Homo sapiens: one gene and its partners. Changing the gene in region 2 together with the main gene of any one other region gives a genetic interaction. Each region holds a gene or a part of one and is shown on either strand. Other genes may lie near its edges.

Region 1 (2,277 bases), on a different chromosome or scaffold from region 2:
AGAGCCCAGCCCTCCCTTCACCCTGAGCTGCAGAGGGGCGGCTGTGAGCTGCTTCCCCATCCTTGTCTAGAAGCATGGCTTCCAGCACAGCAAGGGGGAGAACTCATCAGAGTGGCAATGGCTACCTACGTATCTACCTACATGCCTGCCTACCTACCTAATCTAGCTATGCATCCACGGGACAGGGTCTCACTGTCGCCCAGGCTGGTGTGCAGTGGCGCAATCTGCTCACTGCAGTTTCAACCTCCCCAGGCTCAAGGGATCCTCCCGCCTTAGCCTCCTGTAGCTAGGACCACAGGCACTTGCCACTGCGGCCGGCTGGCTCCTTCTTAAAAACTGTTGGAATACATGTTCTCTTAGGCAGCAAAGCCATAGAAAATCAAGAATATTGCTTTACAGTAACGGTGTTATGTTTATGAAAGCTAACAGAACTGCATCCACATCAGGCACCTCCAACTGAAATGAGCTAAGAACGCTCTCAGGCTGTATCAGCCCCCTCACCTGGGGCCTGTGTTTCAGGACCCCCACGGCAGGGCTGCAACCTCAGACAGCCACTATGGATACTATGTTTTTTTCCTATACCTATGATAAAGTTTATAGATTAGGTGCAGCAAGATATTAACAAAATACAACAATTATACTGTAATAAAAGTTACGCTGATGGGCTACTATTAAGTAAAACAAGGGTTCTGTGAACAGAAGCTCTTGGATACCCACAGCGTATCTGATACCTAGACGGCTACTGGGTGACCAACAGGCAGGTACCGTAGACAGCGTCAGCTTTCATCCCACTGCTTAGAAGAATGGTGTACAATTTAAAACTTAGGAAGTGTTTATGTCTGGAATTTTCCATTTAATATTTTCAGACCGAGGGGGACTGTGGGTAATAAACCATGGAAGGCAAACCCACGGATGGAGGCACTACCGTGTTCTGCCAAAATATGCTGGCTGAAGCCAGGGTTTACTGAAGGCAGAATGCTTCCTGTTTCGGCTGCTGGCCCTAATCCTCGCGCCAGAAAGGACATTGCTGGGTGTGGCTAAGTGCCCAAGGAGTGAAAAGAAGCACACAGAACAACTTTTGTCTAAAATTCACTGCAGTAGAAGAAAATGACACTGATAATCATGAGTAGAAGACTAAAACGACGTGTGCATCCCAATGTGTGAACTAGAGCAAAACTCACCTGTAAGAGTAAAGGGTGAAAATCCCATTGTGGCTGAGTTTTGCGCCTCCACCATAAGCACCGCCTTTTTCTCGAATTTCTGTATGCAAGAATTTGGCAGTCATCAAACGTGCAAGGATTTTAAGACTGAAATGATTAAAAAATGCAAGTTAATACCGTGGCTGATAAAAAAGCATAGACAATGAAGTAATTGTTGGATTAAGTGAAAATGAAAATCGAGTTGTAAAATAATGCTGCATAAATTATGGTCCCATATTTTGGTCTTGTTTTTTAAGAGATGGGGTCTCGCTCTGTCGCCAGGCTGGAGTGCATTAGTGCAATCACAGCTCACTGCAGCTTTGAACTCCTGGGCTCAAGGGATCCTCCCACAACAGCCTCCTGAGTAGCTGGGCCTACAGGTGTGTGCCACCACGCCTGACTATTTTTACAGTTTTTGTAGAGGCAGGGTCTAGCTTTGTTGCCCAGGCTGGTCTCAAACACCTGGCTTCAAGTGATCCTCCTGCCTTCAAAGTGCTGAGCTTACAGGCATGAGATTTTCTTTTCAATTAACCAAAACTAAAAAGCACAAGGAAGCACAATTTTCAAACAGTTGGCTTAGATTACAGGGTTGAAGGGAGAGGTGGTGGGGAGGGAATCTTAACACTTCCAGCACCACACTGCTTAACTTGTTCCAATGCACATGTGGCATTTTTAAAATCTCGTGAAGTAGAAAGAGGTTATTTCTATTATAAAGGCAAATGAGCAAATGAACATTTATTTAAATGTCTCACATCAGAATATGGAAAGAAAGGAAACTGAAGTGAGTTTTATAAGAATCCCTTAAGAAAACACACACTCTCTGATAAAGCACATTTCTAGGAACAGGGCCAATTTCCTCTGCCTTCCACTGTGAACGGTAACATCACATTCAAGCTGATTCTAGAACACATCCACCTCCGACAGAAGGCGGGGCAGACAATGATGGGAGGGTCTGCAGCACAGACACAGGCTCCTTGAAGACGCCCGTGGTGAGATCAGCCCCAGGTCGCCGCTTCCACAGACAGGCCTTTTCCTAAAGTGGATGAAGGGAGTCAAATAGGCCAGGTGGGAAATCAAG
Region 2 (3,979 bases):
AACCTCTTCCCTTCTCCACTTCTCACCTCCCTGTTCATGGGTGTGCCCTGAGCTCAGGCCTAGAATGACTTCTCCATCTCCAATTACTCCCTAGCCGAGTACATCCAGTCTCTTTGCTTTCAGTACCATCTACAGGCTGAGGACTCCCAAATATTCATTCTTCAGCCCAGACCTCTCCCCTGAACTCTTGATCTACATTTTCTACTTTCTATGCAACATCTGCACCTGATTATCTGAGCGGCATCTCCATTCTAACATGTCCCAAACAGAAGTCCTAATCTCTCCCCACTCTCACCTCCCCAAATCTAGTCTCTAGACATCCTCATCTCAGTGCATGGCAAACCCATCCTGTCAGTTGCTCAGGCCAAAAGCCTTGGCATAATAACCCTTTACGAGGTTCTCTCTCGCAAACCCTTCATTTAATCCACCAGCATATTCTGTAGGCTCTGCCTTCAAGATCACTGCTCACCACCTCTACTACTACCACCTGGTCAAACCATTATTCTCTCTCCCTTGAGTTTTTTCCAACAGCCTCCCAATGGCCTCCCCACTTCCACCCTTACCCTGTCATGGTCCATTCTTAACACTGAGGCCGGCAATCTCATTAACAAATCAGATGTGTTGATCCTCAGTTCAGAAGACCCCCATGGCTCCCAACTCAATCAAAACAATGCAAACTCCTAACCTGCATAGACAGGCCTATTGAAGTCTCACAGAACATGGACCCTAACTACCTCTCTGACTTCATCTCCTCTTCTTGTCAACCGTGTACCAGCCACACAAGGCTTTCTTTCTGCAAATAAGTCCCCTGCCATAAGCATTTGCACTTCTTGCTCCCTTTATTACGCTTTTCCCCCAGGTGTGTAGTTCAGTCTTTCATTTCACTGAGGTTTCTTTTTTTTTTTTTTTGAGATAGAGTTTGCTCTTGTTGCCCAGGCTGGAGTGCAATGGCGCAATCTCGGCTCACCCGCAACCTCCACCTCCTGGGTTCAAGCAATTCTCCTGCCTCAGCCTCCAGAGTAGCTGGGATTACAGACATGCACCACCACGCCCAGCTGATTTTGTATTTTTAGTAGAGACAGGGTTTCTCTATGTTGGTAGGGCTGGTCTGGAACTCCCGACCTCAGGTGATCCACCCACCTCGGCCTCCGAAAATGCTGGGATTACGGGCATGAGCCACCGCGCCCGGCCTTCACTGAAGTTTCTTATCAAATATCCCCGCACTCTGGCCTGGGCAATGGAGTGAGACCCTGTCTCAAAAAAAAAAATTAAGATTACCATTTTACAATTAAGCAAATAATTCCATGATGAAGCCAGGCCCAGACTACAGGCTGCAGCCCTTATAAAAAAACAGTGGGTAAGTAAAAGTTGATAAACAGCAACAAGGAAATGCACACTTGTGTTAATCAAATATTTAATTTCACACATGCTCTAATGCTTTACTTCCCTTACAATTCTAAGTAGCAGTCTAATGAGATCACATAGGCCTAACAACATTTATTCAACATTCTTCTGACAGAAGCTACAGGCATTTGCTCCAATTTATTCTACCTTTCTTTCTAGGGAAATTGAATAACAAGCAGAATGGAATAAGATTCTAATCCAGAATTCTGGAGACAACGCCAAGGAGACTGCCCTTCAGGTGACTCTAATCTGCAACCAGATTGAAGAACCAGATGACTTTCACAGGATCCATTCAGTTCAAACCAGAAGTCCTACTATTTTGAATAGAAAAGCTGTTAGGCTAATAGCGCAGGAGGTTTATACGGTTTATTCCTTCCTCCCTCAGACCTGTGCATGTCTGCAGAGATGAAGGGAAGGACGAACTGAGTAGGTTGCTGAAAAACGTTTAATTCAAGGGACAAGGAAGGTTACGGAAGAGGAAGAGACATTACGAGAGTTAAGGACAGTGGCTACGTCTACCTCAGCCGGATGGTTCTTAGAAATGGAGACTCTGAGGCCTAACCCCAGGTCTAAAAAAACAGATTCTGCATTTTAACGTCCCCAGACGATTTGTATGCACCGGTCTGCATCCCTAGTTCTCAATGAAACCTAAGAATCATCTGGAGAGTTTGTTAATAACTAGACACCTGGGTCCTACCCCTCAGAGATTCTGATTTACCGGGCTCTCGGTGGAGCTATATGTTTAACAAGCACTGCAAGTTATCCCGGTACAACTGCTCCAAGGTCTACGGTCTGAGAAGTACGGACCGGGAAGGCCTCTGCAAGGAGGTTCTCATTCATCAATTCACCCACTCATCCAGCCAGGACAAGGGCCTTCTTAGGCTATTCTATCTAAAGCGGCCCCCGTTAAACCGCACTCCTGCTTTTCCTCTGTAACACCCACCCCAGCTGCAAGTTCTCCGTACGCTTACCGTCTGTCTCCCCACCCACTAGAACGTGAACTCCAACACAGCAGAGACCTTCTGTGCTTTTCTTACCCAGGTGATCTCGGAGGACAAAATCCAATCTGAAGCCCACCCACCCCTCCCGCGCATGTCAACACCACTCAACAAACCCCTTGTACCTCTAGCTGTAATAAGTAACAAGCAGTATCCTACAGGGCGCCTCGGTGCCCAGGAGCGGATGCAAAGGCGCTGGGCGGGCACAAGGCAGCGCCAAGGACACTCAGGGACGGAGGAACCGACAGGGGACTTGACGCTCCGCCACTCCGACCAGCCGCCCCTTGTCCCCGCCGTCCTCGTCCGCCACTGAGATATCCCCCACGGTCTACCCACCCGTCGGCTCCCACCTGCGACCCAAGGACCCAAGTCTTCCAAGAGCTCAGCCGTTAGAATTCAAAGGTTCTTCTTTTTAAATAGGAGTTAAACCCTCTAGCTAGAAAGCCGATTGGCCTGCGCTCGAGCGAGGCTGCCTTGTGATTGGTTGACAACAAACCCGACGCCTTGAGTCGCGTTTAAGGGCGCACACCGCGCGCAGGCGCACTTGCTCCCTAAGAACCCGGAAGTGGTGGAGCCAACGGCCAGCCAGACCTGTGGCAGTCCCAGCCCCAGGGTGCTCTCCGCGGTCGGCCATTTATCGGTGAAGCAACAGCCCCTTGACGTCAAGCTTGACGCATTGGAGATAAAGTCCAAGGAGGTGAACTAACCTTTGAACGTGCCAGTAAGTAAGATGGCGAGAAAAGCAAGAGAGAGTGGGACCGATCGATAGCGCAGCGGTCGGCTTGGCGCCCTTTCAGCGTGCGCAGTGAACGTGCGCTCGGAGCGGTAGATTGGGCAGGATTCGCGCCTCCATTTTTCCAGGAGAGAGCGGGATACCAAGAGAACCGGACCAGCTGGTACTGGGACACGGGGAGAGTAGCTGGTGCGGTCGGCTGGGGCATTTAGAGAAAACCACAGAAACGACTGGGGCGAGACTGGAAGAGTCGAGAGTTAGCAAGGTGGCATGCGCCTCTACTTTGCGTTTCCTAAGTTGCCCGGCTTGGCCTGCACCCCTTCCTCTTCTCGAAGGGCCTCGCTTCCATTCCCACCCAGTCCTTAGTTCGCCTCTGCATCCAGATGGTCGCGGCGCATATAGTGAGGGGGCATCTGTGTTCTAGCCTTTCCAACTGCGATGTATCCGGTCCTGGATCGGGTTCTTGTCCTCGTGTGCTCACCTGCAAATTGGGGATAATTAGGCTTCTGTTTACCTGGCGAGTGAACGTTCTGTGGGAGTTGAGAAGTTAGGGGTGGGCCACTTAAAATATATATATATATACACACACACACACATATACATATATATACACACACATATGTGTGTGTGTGTGTGTGTATGTACACCCGGGATGTGCTCAGCAGAAGTGAAGAGACCGGATAGAACAGTGGTGTAGGGGAACCAAAAATGGCTTCCCTCCATCCTTCCAGGTACCTTATTAGGACTAAGAGTTAAATTCACATAAGACGAATTAACAGATTACTGCAGGGTAAACAGGATGTGCATGTAAAGCATTGAGCTAGCATACGGAAATTATTCGAGT
Region 3 (3,500 bases), on a different chromosome or scaffold from region 2:
ATCCTCGTACTGGACGCTTTCCGTCGGAATGTCCTCCATAGGAAGGGGCTCCACATTGATGTCGTGGAGCTCCACAATATCTGCCGGGATCTCCAGGTCTTGTGTGATGGAGAAATCTTCGTTGGAGGCCATGGCTGAGAGTTAGTTAGGTTAGCGGCAACGGGAAGACCGTGGGAAAAAGAACGCTGAGGGGAGTGAGGTGGGAGCTGCAGAGGAAGGGGCGAGCTGCAGAGGAAGGGGCGAGCTGCAGAGAAAGGCGCGAGCTGCAGAGAAAGGCGCGAGCTGCAGAGAAAGGCGCGAGCTGCAGAGAAAGGCGCGAGCTGCAGAGAAAGGCGCGAGACTGAGGAAAGCACGAGCCGGAAGGCGCAGGTGCTTCTGGGATAGCCAGACGCATGCGCCTAGGCAACTGGCGCGTCTGTCGGCCCCAAAAGCACGTGCACGTGCCCGCGTACGTTTGCCACCCTGCGACCCCGCCCAGCTGTTGTTTTTCCACTTTCGTAAGCAGGCTCTTTACTGATTTTTTATGTATTTCATTTTAGTTGATTTTCATGTCTTCCCCTCCTGTCCATCCCATATAACAGTATCTGCCAAAAAAGCCTACTCCTTTTATGCTTTTTTCTCTTATTTAATTGCACTAATACGACATTTAATATCAGTAATAGTTGATAGTAGAATTTGTCTTGTCCTTTAATAGGAATGCAAAGTGTTGTGCTATTATGATGTATGCAGCTATTCCTACTTTTACTAAGGATTTTTTTTTTTTTTTGAGACGGAGTCTCGCTCCGTCGCCCAGGCTGGAGTGCAGTGGCGCGCGATCTCGGCTCACTGCAACCTCCGCCTCCTGGGTTCGAGTGATTCTCCTGCTTCAGCCTCCAGAGTAGCTGGGCCGGGCACAGCAATCCCACACCTGTAATCCCAGCACTTTGGGAGGCCGAGGCAGGAGGGTCACTTGAGGTCAGGAGTTTGAGACCAGCCTAGCCAACATGGCAAAACCCCTTCTCTACTAAAAATACAAAAATTAGCTGGGCGTGGTGGCTCGTGCCTGTAATCCTAGCTACTCGGGAGGCTGAGGCAGGAGAATCGCTTCAACCTGGGAGGCAGAGGTTGCAGTGAGCCTAGATCATGCCGCTGCACTACAGCCTGGGCAACACAGCGAGACTCCATCTCAAAAGAAAAAGGGCGTTCTTTATCAACTTTCTTAATTTCTCCCATTGTAATTATTTGCCTATTTAGATTTTTTTGATTGCCTCTTGGGTTAATTTCAGCTATTTTTATTTTCTTATATTTATACAGGGTTTTGAAATTTTTTTTGTGGAGATGAGCAAACAACACTTATAATTGTTTTTATTTTCTCTGTTATCAATTGTCATTCCCCAATCTGATTGCTAATTGTCTTTAGATGCTTTTTCTCATTGTTCGACCTTTGATTTTTTTTTAAGAGCTCTTGGATTTAGCAGATCTAGTTTTGTTTTTTCTAATTTATTATTTTCTGCCTATATCCTTACTAATTACGTCATCATTTCTTAATTATTTTACAGTTCTTTTCTCACTTAAGTTTAATACTCAACTAATCTATTTCCATTTGTATTTGCATGACTGCCTAAGGCAGTGCATTTTTCTTTTAGCAAAACTTTAAACATTATCTCAGTAAAATGATTTCATCATCATAATTTTTAGATCTACTGAAATCACAGGTTTGAATTAAATTGATCCAAGGTGTGATTAAGATAAATTTCTAAATTTCAGGTAGTTTTTACTTAGTTTGCTAGTCTTCTCTTGGGAATTTACTGTGACTTTAAGTCCCATGGGCACTTGAAAAAATATTGTCTTCTGTGTTCACGGTATAGAGTTTGACATACCTATTTTTACCTTAGCCTAACTTTTTTATACTTATCTGCCATGTATTAAAGCGTGAGTCTTTTTATTACCTGTTTCTTCTTATACTTTTCCCATTTTTGTTTTGCTTTGATGGTTTGTTACTTGATACAGTAAGATTCACAACTGTTATATTTTCATTGTGGCTTATATTCCTTATTATTGTTAAATGGCCCCCAATGTCTAATATAATGCTTTTGGTCTTATTTTCTGTTCCCATTTGCATGTTATGTTCTGCTCATCATTTTACTTTCATTATTTTTGAGTAATTATTTACACAGATTTATTTTGTACATCACATATTTGGGACATGTTTTAAATACAAACTAAGGGCATCTTTCTTTCAGTAGGTGAGCTTATTTCATTTATGTTTATTGACAAAATAAATGTGTTTTGGTCTTAAATTCATTACCATGGTTTATCTTTTGATATAGGGTCTGTTTTCTTTGGTCTGTGTTTCATGCTTTCACTGTGATAACTTGAAAAGTTTATGTGTGTTTTTAGATCTTGTAGTATTTACATTTATAATCTTAAGTGATATACTCAAGCCTCTATTTCTTGATTTATCAGGTTCAGGCAGATGTCCTCTCCACTATGAAGTTGAGGAAATTAGTATTTATATTTCCCGTTTTTGTTTTTCCCACCTTCAGGTTTTTTTTGTTGTTGTTGTCGTTGTTAGTTTGAGAATTCTAACTCCACACTTGCTTAGCCTCAGTTATTCCATTAAAAGTGATGCAGGGTTGTGATGGATTTGTCGTATGTCAGTTTCACTCAGCTGGAACTGTGGTTCCATCTCCAAGGGATTCTGTTTCTCTGATTGAACTCTGACAGTGCTAGAGTTCACTACTCATCCTTTCATAACCCTTTTTTTCCATTCCTGGATACTTTTGATTTATCTCTTAGTCAATTCTTCATATTCTCCCTTGATTTGATGCAAATTTCATTCTATTTCAGCTGAGTTGACATTCTTCATAGTTTGTGATTTCATGTTGTGGACAAAACAAAGTTTTCCTCTGTTTTTAAATTTTTTAAAATTATGTTGTTTTTAGTTGGTTTTAAGGAAGCAACTGGAATGTAAATTATTTTACTCCTCTACTTTTGAAGGGGTCTTATAAACTGAAGTTATTAACCAAAAGATAAGATATTGTCATTTGTGATATATTTTCCAAAAAGCACTAACCATAGAAAATCAAAACCAAAACCACAGATGAATATTAAAACAAAATTAAGTCTGTTACCTGCACAAAATATCCTTAGCTGCTGGACTGGCGATATAAGTTGCAAATGAGTGGTGAACAGATCAACAAATGCTCCAGGATAAATAATGAAGAGAAAAATCCCAAAGCCATTAAATCGAACTTGTTCCCTAAGAAATCACATAAGAAAAAGGAGTTTACTAATACTATTATATTTATCAAATTAATAGTGTACATAATCTTAAAACTTTTCACTGTAATTTGAATTCTTGCTTAAAAAACAGAAAGTCTCTCTGAACAGCCAAAAAAATTATATCTATACTATATATAATCTTAATTTTATAATAATGTACAGATTTGGTTATCTGTGAAATTGAATTTTGCAAAATAGGGCATACTGAAATAGACATAACTTCAAAATTTTTAGAA
Region 4 (3,500 bases), on a different chromosome or scaffold from region 2:
CAATGGTAGCTATTACAATACCAAGTTAAGACTTTATTCCCCCCAGGCGCAGCAGCTCACGCCTGTAATCCCCAACACTTTGGGAGGCCAAAGCTGGCAGATCATGAGGTCAGGAGTTTGAGACCAGCCTGACCAACATGCTGAAACCCTGTTGCTACTAAAAATACAAAAATTAACCGGGCATGGTGGCGCATGCCTGTAATCCCAGCTACTCAGGAGGCTGAGGCAGGAGAGCTGCTTGAACCTGGGAGGCAGAGGTTGCAGTGAGCCAAGATCGCGCCACTGCACTCCAGCCTGGGTGACAGAGCGAGACTCTTGTCTCAAAAAAAGAAAAAAAAAAAGACTTTTTTCCCTCAGCTTTCCCTAGAGGGATTTTTCCCTAGCTTTCCCTAGAAGGATTCACAGTTCATTCTTTCACAGAAAAGAATGGTTTCATAAACCATATGGCCATGAATGCACCGGAACCTCATCACAGAGCTCATTCAGAAAAGACTAGCAATCTGCCCAGCCTAGGAAGCCAGAGATGCATGATACAGTGTCTCTTGTGGTCATTTCCAGACTGGCCCCTCCAGCAACTCTGCAGCTCCAACCTCTTAGGTTCATACCTGCCTTTTTGCCAAATTCTCCTTCCAGCTCGGCCTGTGCCCCAGTCAGGGGGAGGTCCACCATCTCTAGGCACACCACTTCTGCCAGGGACTCCTCACGGCTCCACAGCACCACCTTCCCTGCTACAGGAAACATTTTTACAAAGCTAAGCCTGGGGCTGGGCACAGTGGCTCATGCCTGTAATCCCAGCACTTTGGGAGGCCAAGGTGGGTGAATCTCTTGAGCCCAGGAATTTGAGACCAGCCTGGACAACAGGGCAAAACCTTATCTCAACAAAAAATAAATATCAGGGCTGGGCACAGTGGCTCACGCCTGTAATCCCAGCACTTTGGGAGGCCAAGGCGGGCAGATCACGAGGTCAGGAGATCGAGACCATCCTGGCTAACATGGTGAAACCCCTCTCTACTAAAAATACAAAAAATTAGCCAGGCATGATGGTGGGCGCCTGTAGTTCCAGCTACTCGGGAGGCTGAGGCAGGAGAATGGCGTGAACCCGGGAGGTGGAGGTTGCAGTGAGCCGAGATTGTGCCATTGCACTCCAGCCTGGGCGACACAGCGAGACTCCGTCTTGAAATAAAATAAAATAAAATAAAAATAAATAAATATCAAAAAATTAGCCAAGCATGGTGGCGAGCGCCTGTAGTCACAGCTACTTAGGAGGCTGAGATAGGAAGATCACTTGAGCCCGGGAGATTGAGGCTGCAGTGAGCTATGATCACGCCACTGTACTCCAGACTGGGCAACAGTGAGACCTTGTCTCAAAAAATAAATAAATAAATAAACAAAAGCTAAGCCTGTCTCCCAGATTTTCTAGAGAGACTCTTCTCGCTGACTCAGGGATTACTACAAGCTCTTGCATAAAAGGAGAAATGGCAGAGCAAGGGGCTGGAATCAATAGGTCAAAGGAGGAAAGTTCTGTATCCCACCGAGAATGCCAAGTTATTCTTCAAAAGCAGGTAACGGGGCCGGGCATAGTGGCTCATGCCTGTAATCCCAGCACTTTGGGAGGCCAAGGCGGGCAGATCACCTGAGGTTAGGAGCTTGAGACCAGCCTGGGCCAACATGGTGAAACCCTGTCTCTTACTAAAAATACAAAATTAGCGCCTATAATCCCAGCTACTCAGGAGGCTGAGGCAGGAGAATCGCTTGAACCAGGAGGCAGAAGTTGCAAAGAGCTGAGATTACACCATTCCACTCCAGCCTGGGCAACAAGAGCAAAACTCTGTCTCAAAAAAGAAAAAAAGAGCCAGGCACGGTGGCTCACACCTGTAATCCCAGCACTTTGGGAGGCCGAGGCAGGTGGATCACCTGAGGTCAGGAGTTTGAGACCAGCCTGACAAACATGGTGAAACCCCATCTCTACTAAAAATACAAAATTAGCCAGGCGTGGTGGTGCATGCCTGTAATCCCAGCTACTTGGGAGGCTGAGGCAGGAGAATCACTTAAACCTGGGAGGCAGAGGTTGCAGTGAGCTGAGATCATGCCACTGTACTCCAGCAGTCTGAGCAACAAGAGCAAAACTCCGTCTCAAAAAAAAAAAAAAAAGCAGGTGACAGGCCAGGCACGGTGGCTCACACCTGTAATCCCAGCACTTTGGGAGGCCGAGGCAGGCGGATCACTTGAGGTCAGGAATTCGAGACCAGCCTGGCCAACATGGGGAAACCCTGTCTCTACTGAAAATACAAAAATTAGCTGGTCGTGGTGGCACACGCCTGTAATCCCAGCTACTCAGGAGGCTGAGGCAGGAGAATCGCTTGAATCCGAAAGGTGGAGATTGCAGTGGGCCGAGATCATGCCACTGCACTCCAGCCTGGGCAAGAGAGCAAGACTCTATCTCAAAAAAAAAAAAAAAAAAAAAAAAGCAGGTGACATTTGGCTATGAACGAAACACTCAGGGCACACTCCACTTGAATCTCTTCCAGAAACCTGCAGCCTCCCAAAAAACAGTCTGATTGGAACACATTGGAAGGCCTGGGGAAATAAAAAAATGGGTTGAATGAGGTCTACTTACCCAACTGCTGCAGGAAAAGTAGCAGATGATCCTCTGTCTGCACCAAAGCCCGGTAGCCCACTGAGTCATCCTTCTTCAAGAACACCTGGATATACAGCTATAAGCCACAGTCAAGACCGGTGTAGTCAGTGAGGATCCAAATGCCTCTGAGAGCACCAGACCCCAGGAGTCAAAGCCTGGACTTAACAGAGGTACAGGCCATGGCATTATTTGATGTCTAAACAATGTAGCTATTATCTGGATGCCAGTAAGTGATACATATTCTTAGGAGCCAACATAATGATGCTGGGGTCTCCCAGACCTTTCCATGGAAGAACCTGAGTACTCCACGGGTACCACGCCATTCATCCATGCTCTAATCACACCCCACAAAGTGAGCAGGAGGCCGGGATTAGACTTTCCGCTTTAGAAACGAAGAAGCCACAGCCCAAGCAGCTGAGGAACACAACCAGATGCACACAGAGGCAATACTGGGTAGTGATGAGGAGTCCAGGCTGTGGGGTTAGACCTGAATCTGAACCGCAGTGACACCTCTTACTGGCTCCGTGACTCTGGCTATGGTACTCGATCCCACCAGGCCACAGAATCATTTTAAAACCAGGTCAGGAACAACCGCTTCATGAGAGTGTTTGGAGGGTTAAATCAATTAATGTGTAAGTTAAAAGCTTAGAACAGTCCCTGGTGCACAATGATGAGCTGGCATAAATAATACCCGCCTTTACTGTGACTTCTAACAAGTCAGTGGCTCAGAGAGCACTAGAACACATGTTTAGAGAGCCTAATCCAAGCCCCATGGCTAAGACCTGGCCCTGAGGAAAGGAAGCCATGTGCTGAGAAGCCCACAGGACAGTCTGCAAAGAAAGGCTCTGCCTTACCCGCTCAG

Evidence for each region. Genes that interact genetically often act in the same process or in processes that back each other up.
Region 1: changes in AURKA (region 2) and PITRM1 together harm fitness more than expected from each alone (negative genetic interaction), as found in Homo sapiens cells (one large-scale study listed by BioGRID).
Region 3: changes in AURKA (region 2) and MBTPS2 together harm fitness more than expected from each alone (negative genetic interaction), as found in Homo sapiens cells (one large-scale study listed by BioGRID).
Region 4: changes in AURKA (region 2) and EMC1 together harm fitness more than expected from each alone (negative genetic interaction), as found in Homo sapiens cells (one large-scale study listed by BioGRID).

The regions. Positions count from the first base shown.
Region 1 is NC_000010.11:3,139,506-3,141,782, forward strand, and holds part of PITRM1 (presequence protease, mitochondrial isoform 2 precursor), read right to left. Parts: intron 2,265-2,277; exon of another isoform or gene 2,096-2,264; intron 1,308-2,095; coding exon 1,182-1,307; intron 1-1,181. UniProt on the Homo sapiens protein: Metalloendopeptidase of the mitochondrial matrix that functions in peptide cleavage and degradation rather than in protein processing. Has an ATP-independent activity. Specifically cleaves peptides in the range of 5 to 65 residues.
Region 2 is NC_000020.11:56,389,416-56,393,394, forward strand, and holds the start of AURKA (aurora kinase A), read right to left. Parts: upstream 2,801-3,979; 5' UTR 2,753-2,800; exon of another isoform or gene 2,376-2,752; intron 1,251-2,375; exon of another isoform or gene 1,141-1,250; intron 1-1,140. UniProt on the Homo sapiens protein: Mitotic serine/threonine kinase that contributes to the regulation of cell cycle progression.
Region 3 is NC_000023.11:21,853,117-21,856,616, reverse strand, and holds part of MBTPS2 (membrane-bound transcription factor site-2 protease), read right to left. Parts: intron 3,242-3,500; coding exon 3,114-3,241; intron 631-3,113; exon of another isoform or gene 133-630; coding exon of another isoform or gene 1-132. Other genes in the region: transcription factor YY2, read right to left, coding at 1-132. UniProt on the Homo sapiens protein: Zinc metalloprotease that mediates intramembrane proteolysis of proteins such as ATF6, ATF6B, SREBF1/SREBP1 and SREBF2/SREBP2.
Region 4 is NC_000001.11:19,234,525-19,238,024, forward strand, and holds part of EMC1 (ER membrane protein complex subunit 1 isoform 1 precursor), read right to left. Parts: coding exon 3,493-3,500; intron 2,715-3,492; coding exon 2,618-2,714; intron 729-2,617; coding exon 606-728; intron 1-605. UniProt on the Homo sapiens protein: Part of the endoplasmic reticulum membrane protein complex (EMC) that enables the energy-independent insertion into endoplasmic reticulum membranes of newly synthesized membrane proteins.